Linked DNA regions of Homo sapiens. The protein of the gene in region 1 purifies or fractionates together with the protein of each later gene. This does not show direct contact. Each region holds a gene or a part of one and is shown on either strand. Other genes may lie near its edges. The genes, in order: GSTA5 and EIF3M.

Region 1 (3,565 bases):
GGTTCCTGAAAAGTGGGGTGATATAAATTATAGCAGAGGCTCCTTGGTGGCAGAATATTTGATGGCCATTAGCCCATGGCATACCCCACACTGGGGACACACAAGGTTGTGGTCTGATCTCTCCTGGAGACACGGGCTTTACTAAGATATGACAACACCATAACTAGGAGAACTGCTCAGTGCCTTCTTTCCAGTGATGTCCCCTCTCAAAATATGACCTAATCATAGACATTCATCAGAACAGGGTGGCAGTGAACTAAAAGATTGAGCAGCTATGTGCTGTGACCCATGCACTTTTCTCAATGAATTAGGTCTAAACTTCCAAATGGCCATTACCAGCCCCCTCTGTATATCCTGCGAAACTCAGAAATCTTATATTCTCCAAATCATGCACCAGATAGGGGCCATTCAACATCACAAGTCTATAATAGAATTAACTAAGAAGAACCCATTTACTGTTTCTGCTTCCAGTTGGAAGAGAAATTTCTAGAATCTGCAGAAGATTTGGACAAGTTAAGAAATGGTAAGATCAATCTCTAAGTAACTCTGATGAGAGTTTCTAGTAGAAGGTACAGAGGAACGTTGAGCAGCCAGGAATACCTATGTGTGTGGGGGGTGATATTTAGTCACGGTGGAGAGGGAGAAAGTGGTTAAAATGGAAGGGATGTGGCTCCTTGATCAGGTCTGGCAACTCTCTCCAAGCTAAAAGGACCAGACCTCTCAGAGTATTTGTTAGAGGAATGATATCCCGCCCCCGGGGAAAGCCCTTTTTCTGTTTTCATGCTTGGGGGACCGTCAGTGAGCTGTGGTTATCAGCACAGGATCCCATAGAGCCCTCCCCATCCAAGCACACGCAAGAACATGCGCTAGATGAAAGGAGGAAAAATCGACGTGGCCATTGCCTTGAGGTTTTTCTTTCATGGGGGGGCGTGACAAAGTAACACTGTGGCACTATTGCAGGCTTTGAAGAGCAGAAAAGGGGACCCTTATATTAAAAACCTCTCAGAACCTGCCTTAGATGTCGCAAACACCATGAGACTTACCCTGAGAACTTCCCATTTTAAATGGCACCTGTTGCCAGTCCTATTGTAACTTGTCCCAACCTCTTCCTAAAACATCCATGAAGATAAATCAACACAAAAAATACAAGAGTCCTGCTATGTATCTGGAGGGGAAATAAAAACAAAAATGAAGTAACAGGATAAAAAGTAGAAGGAAGCTGCTTAAGAAAAAGAAGAACTACAGGAAACTTTTAAAAAATGTTGTTTGGGCCGGGTATGGTGGCTCACACCTGTAATCCCAGCTCTTCGAGAGGCTGAGGCGGGTGGATCATTTGAGGTCAGGAGTTCGAGACCAGTTTGGCCAACATGATGAGATCACGTCTCTACTAAAAATACAAAAATTAGCTGGGTATGTTGGCACATGCCTGTAATCCCAGCTACTCAGGAGGCTGAGGTAGGAGAATTGCTTGAACCCAGGAGGCAGAGGTTACAGTGAGCTGAGATCGTCCCACTGCACTCCAGCCTGGGTGACAGAGTGAGACTCTGTCTCAAAAAACAAAACAAGGAAAAAAGTTGTTTCAAGTGAAAACTTAACAGGCAATAATTTCTTTTTCATTTCACAAATTTAGTCATTTCCATAACCATTTTTTTCATCCCAAAAGGGTGGGTTTCATAGACACTTCATACTCCTTTTTTTTTCTTCTTTCTAAGATGGGAGTTTGCTGTTCCAGCAAGTACCAATGGTTGAGATTGACGGGATGAAGCTGGTGCAGACCAGAGCCATTCTTAACTACATTGCCAGCAAATACAACCTTTATGGGAAAGACATGAAGGAGAGAGCCCTGTATGGTATATTTTCTGTTCTTCCATCCACAGAGAACACAGAGTGATTTAAGTCCTTCTTTGAGTGGGTGGGACCATGGCAGGGCATCATGACCAGCAGCAGGCTGGGTCTTGAGGATGCACGCTGAGGTCCAGTATTGCAGAGTCCCATGGAGATGAGGGAACAGTGAACATGGGGAGGGTTCAGGCAAGGGTGATTCTAAAAGAGGATGCAGTCCATGGATCCTGCAACCTGACTGAGGTTTCCAGACACTCATAAACCCTATGAACTGAGGAGGATGGGGAATCATGATTCAGGTACTCAGAACTTCAGAGGCTAGACTCCAGCCAACAGCGTAGGGCAAGGCATAGAATGTCTGAGAGTCTGTAGATGAAGGCCTGGGGAGGGAAGGCTGTAAACAAGCTGAATCTCAGGTCCCAGTAATTCCAAGAATCATGACCAGGAACCTAAATTACCAACCAATTATATGGGCCAGAACACTTGAGCAGGGCTAGTAGAGGCTGGTGCCCAGGATGCTGGGGTTACCTTGACACATGGATAGAAGGCTGAAACAGCCAGATTGATTCAATACCAACAAAGCCAAGGGGTCTCCTCTCTGTTGTGATGAGACTGCATAATTACAAATAAATCCTGAATGGAACTGTTGGCAGCTCCACAAAAACTTTAACATAGTATTACCAATGACCCAGCAGTTGCTCTAGTAGGCATATCCCCAAACAATCAAAAATACATCCACACTAAATTTTTTACAGAAATGAACAATGCAAATAACAATATTCATAGTATTCAAAAAGTGGAAACAACCCAAATATCCATCAATCAATAAATGGAGGAGAAAAAATGCCTTAGCCATGCAATGGAAAGATATTTGGTCATGAAAAGGAATGAAGTACCAATGCATGCTACAAGATGGTTAAACAATAAAGACATGTTACATAAAATACACAAGACACAGAAGGCCAAGTATTATAGGATTCTTTTTGTATGAAATGTCCAGATATTCAAATCCATAGAGGTAGCAAGTAGATTAGTGGTTGCCTGGAGGTAAAGGAGTGGGGCTTGGAGATAAATGAAGAATACCGCTAATGGTACAGATGTCCTTATCAGGGTGATAAGAATAATTCTGGAATTAGACTGTGATGATTTTTACAGAATTCTGTGAATCCACCAAAAACCACTCAATAGTGTAATTTAACAGGTTGCAATTACAGTACGTGAACATACGTCAATAAAGGTCTTGTTTTAAAAAGTATTGTGAAACTCTAGTTTGACACAAAAGAAGAAAAGTTTGCACTGGTTGTAATTGTATAGAGAATTTCACCGGGGAAGGGGATTCTTAGGTGGGGTCTCAGGAAAGGCACACATGGCTAGAGTTAGGCAACAGCACATGGAGAGGGCTGTGGAAATGTGTTTCATGGGTGTAATTGGAAGAACTGCTAATATGGGGCACAGGAGCCCTGGGAGCTGTAAAATGATGAGAGAGGACAAGAAATATGGCTGAGATGGCTGTGCCAGGGATTCTTTTAGGATTACTTAGAGGGCAGCTCTTTGGCCATTTGACTCACACTAAGTTCATGCACAGAACAAGCCACAATTGAGATGATAAATCCTGGCACAGCATCAGTGGGTATTGGCAGTGATTCCACCAATTTCTCTCATGACTGTGACCACCGATGCTCTTTTTCCTGTATTAGGTCATGTGTGTAACAAAATTTTGAGA
Region 2 (3,299 bases), on another chromosome or scaffold:
CTGAGCTCATGCAATCCACTCGCCTCAGTTTCCCAAAGTGCTGGGATTACAGGTATGAGTCACAGTGCCTGGCCCAGTATTCCTTTTGAAGAGAAAATTTTATCTGGGAATCTCTCAAAAACATCAAAGATTGTTTTGCATGAAATTAACTCGAATTAATTTTTGGTAGGGATAAACTGGAAACAAACATTCAGTAGTAGGAGATATATCAAACATCCATAAAAGGGAGTATTTTGCAGCCATAGACAATTGTTTTTAATGACCTAAGAAACTGCTCACAGAGGAAAATACATAAAATTCTATAGAATGATCAAATAGGCTAAAAATAGAAAAAAACGCTAGCAGCAAATAATACCAAAATGTCAACAAGCCTCTCTGGATAAGGGATTACTAATGATTTTTAGTTTCTTTCTACTTTACTCTATTTTCTAAATTTCCAGTAAGTATTTTAACATCAGAAAAGAACCTTAAAATGAAAAAGTTATTTAACACACTATTTTTAAAATTACCCAATACAGTGTCTTGAAAACATGCCAACTTCCAAATATCTCACTGCCCTTCCTGTTTCTTCAACAATGGTGTTCTGAAGCATGGGAGGAAACATGAAGTAGTAAAAGGCAGTTTTTGTACACTTTACTTCAGTTATATATTAGAGATTTTGAAGATCTACTACATAAGCCTACACATTCACATTGTATACTTTTCTGGTGCCAGAACTACTAAGGTAGTGGAAATCAGCCAAGAGATGGTGGTTTTACCACATACTCATAACTGCAGAGGCTTTACAGACTCTTTAAAATCTTTTGTATAATAATTTCGAAGGTAAAATTAGTTTATCTTTCCCAGGTGAAAACAAAGCCTCTGATATCAACTCCACTACAAAGCCATTTGCAGGCAATCAAGACGACTAAAAATACTTCTGGTGATGATGACTGGCAGAGCCTCATTACGAATCAACTAAATAAAAGTGAAAATTTACTAAGTTTAGAAAATGACAACCAGCCAAAGAAAAGAAAAGCAGAAGAGACGTTGGAAAAAAACAACAGATTAAAATAATGTAGATAAGTGCTTTCAGTAGTGAAATTATGTAACTGAAATTCTGGTATAGTTTTTACTAGAATAAAATGACTGTTGTATTTAAAGCTCTACAGTTTGTCTTTGCTTTTCCAAGTTTTTCTAATGTGAAGAAATTGTATTACTCTACTTCTGTCTTCTCTCTGTATATTATCCTTTCTTTAAAGTGCTCATTGCTTCTTCAATATCCTTTTTTAAAGAACAGAATTTATGTATTGTATGACAGACATTGTGACCCCTTGTAATTTATTACTTCATATCCTCTGGAGTTTGTGATTTTAGTATAAATTTGAGACAATAACTGTCCAGACTAGGCAAATTTTTTTAGTTTATAATGTTTTACTATGATTTAGGGCTTTTTTTTCAAAGAACAAAAATTATAAGCATAAAAACTCAGGTATCAGAAAGACTCAAAAGGCTGTTTTTCACTTTGTTCAGATTTTGTTTCCAGGCATTAAGTGTGTCATACAGTTGTTGCCACTGCTGTTTTCCAAATGTCCGATGTGTGCTATGACTAAAAATTGAAAAATTAAACACAGTGTTAGTCAACCTTTTAGCCTCTGGTATTCTTTTATAATACTACAGATTTGAATCCAGTTAAAAGCAAGATTAAATATACCTAATTTAGAATAGTAAGAGAATTTAAGAATTACATAATTATTTAAAAAAAATCTTTACCATATTGATCCTAAGCCTTCTAATTCTCCTGAGCAACTATATAAAGCAGACATAAAAGTCATTAGTATTCTAGCCAATGCTCAGCCATTAAATGAAATGTGCTGGAAAATAGGACTCTTTCATTAAATAAGCTAATCACATTCAGTCTGAACTTTAATAAAATTATGATAAATAGCAACTATTTAACTACAGTCAAGTGATAACACCACCTTGGTTCTCTAAACATTTAAGTGAAATAATCGGAACAAACTAAATCGTTCTATAAAATGCTGCAAAGCATTAAATATCTTACCTGACAACTACTTTTCTCTGGGTCTGATCAATTTTGCAGTAGACCATTTTAGTTCTTACGGCTGAAAAAAGATGTTTTATATCGTATGTTATATGGAAAATTTCCAAGAAAAATAGCTAAGGTATGAAAACTGTGACCAAGTAAGCCATAATAAAACTTTATACTGTTTTCCAACATTATACACTGTTTAAATCTAATAAGCAAAACAGTATGGGGCAACCAAAAGAAAGGTCATGCATTTGTCCTATGGCTGCTGGGACAATCTATATTAAATAAATACTGCATACAGTTTTTTGCTGTTTTTTTTTTTTTTTTTTTTTTAAAGAATGCTAGGTGTTCTTCCCCTACCATCTCATATAGGGGAATAAACTAATTTCCTACTAAGTTATTACTTCTTCATAGAAAACTTAGAGCATTAGGGGAAAAAAGGTCAATAGTTCTGTACCTTTTATTAATCTTAATTGCATAATCCCAACTTTCAAATTTAAAAAGCTCAGAAAAAATTCCTGAGCAGTTAAGTTGCTTTATAATCTAATTGTTGGGGAAGAAGTTCTTGTTTCTAGGCTAATCATAAAAAAACTGGTAATGGTTAACACTTGAAAGATCACTTACTATGTGCCAGGCACTGTGCTTTACCTGTATTAATTCATTTAATTCTTACAACCACAAATGAACCCCTACATTCCTGTTTCACAAAGGAAGGGCCTGGTCTTAAATCCACATCTAATACTAAAATCTGTGCTCTTAACCACAGTGGTGTATTGCCTAAACGTCTTTGTTCTACGTGATTTCAAGGGATAGAATATAGCAGTTTATATTTCTACTAAATTTTCACCCTACAACAAATATATCCACTAATCTACTAAATACACATCTGCTATAAACAAATCTTTGTTGTGTAAGGCTCAGTTTCCAGATAAAAATCTTACTATGATCCATGTAGTAGATGAGAAATTCTAGAAATAAATGAAAATGTTCTGTCTGCCTTACCGTCAATAACAAATGCTTCAACATCATCAGCTCCAATCTGAAGTTCTTGCTGCATTGTGTCAAAAGAAATTTCCTTATTTTCTACTGCCATTCCCATAAAAGTAAGTAGTCTCATTTTTGCCATATTCTGTTCATGTAACAGGCCTAGAAAACAGAATAGTGAAGCCTGATGAGTGTTCATACTAATTAAAGACCTGCACAATTACATCTCATGTTAAGCTGTGGAAATTATTTTTACTTTTGTAATTGTGGAAATTATTGTTTG

Evidence for each region.
Region 2: the proteins of GSTA5 (region 1) and EIF3M purify together in Homo sapiens (affinity purification with mass spectrometry; one large-scale study listed by BioGRID and IntAct). This does not show direct contact.

The regions. Positions count from the first base shown.
Region 1 is NC_000006.12:52,834,516-52,838,080, reverse strand, and holds part of GSTA5 (glutathione S-transferase A5), read left to right. Parts: intron 1-471; coding exon 472-523; intron 524-1,712; coding exon 1,713-1,845; intron 1,846-3,565.
Region 2 is NC_000011.10:32,600,568-32,603,866, reverse strand, and holds part of EIF3M (eukaryotic translation initiation factor 3 subunit M), read right to left. Parts: intron 3,179-3,299; coding exon 3,035-3,178; intron 2,106-3,034; coding exon 2,045-2,105; intron 1,589-2,044; coding exon 1,468-1,588; 3' UTR 1,057-1,467; coding exon of another isoform or gene 847-1,056; 3' UTR 1-846. Other genes in the region: CCDC73 (coiled-coil domain-containing protein 73), read left to right, coding at 847-1,056. UniProt on the Homo sapiens protein: Component of the eukaryotic translation initiation factor 3 (eIF-3) complex, which is required for several steps in the initiation of protein synthesis.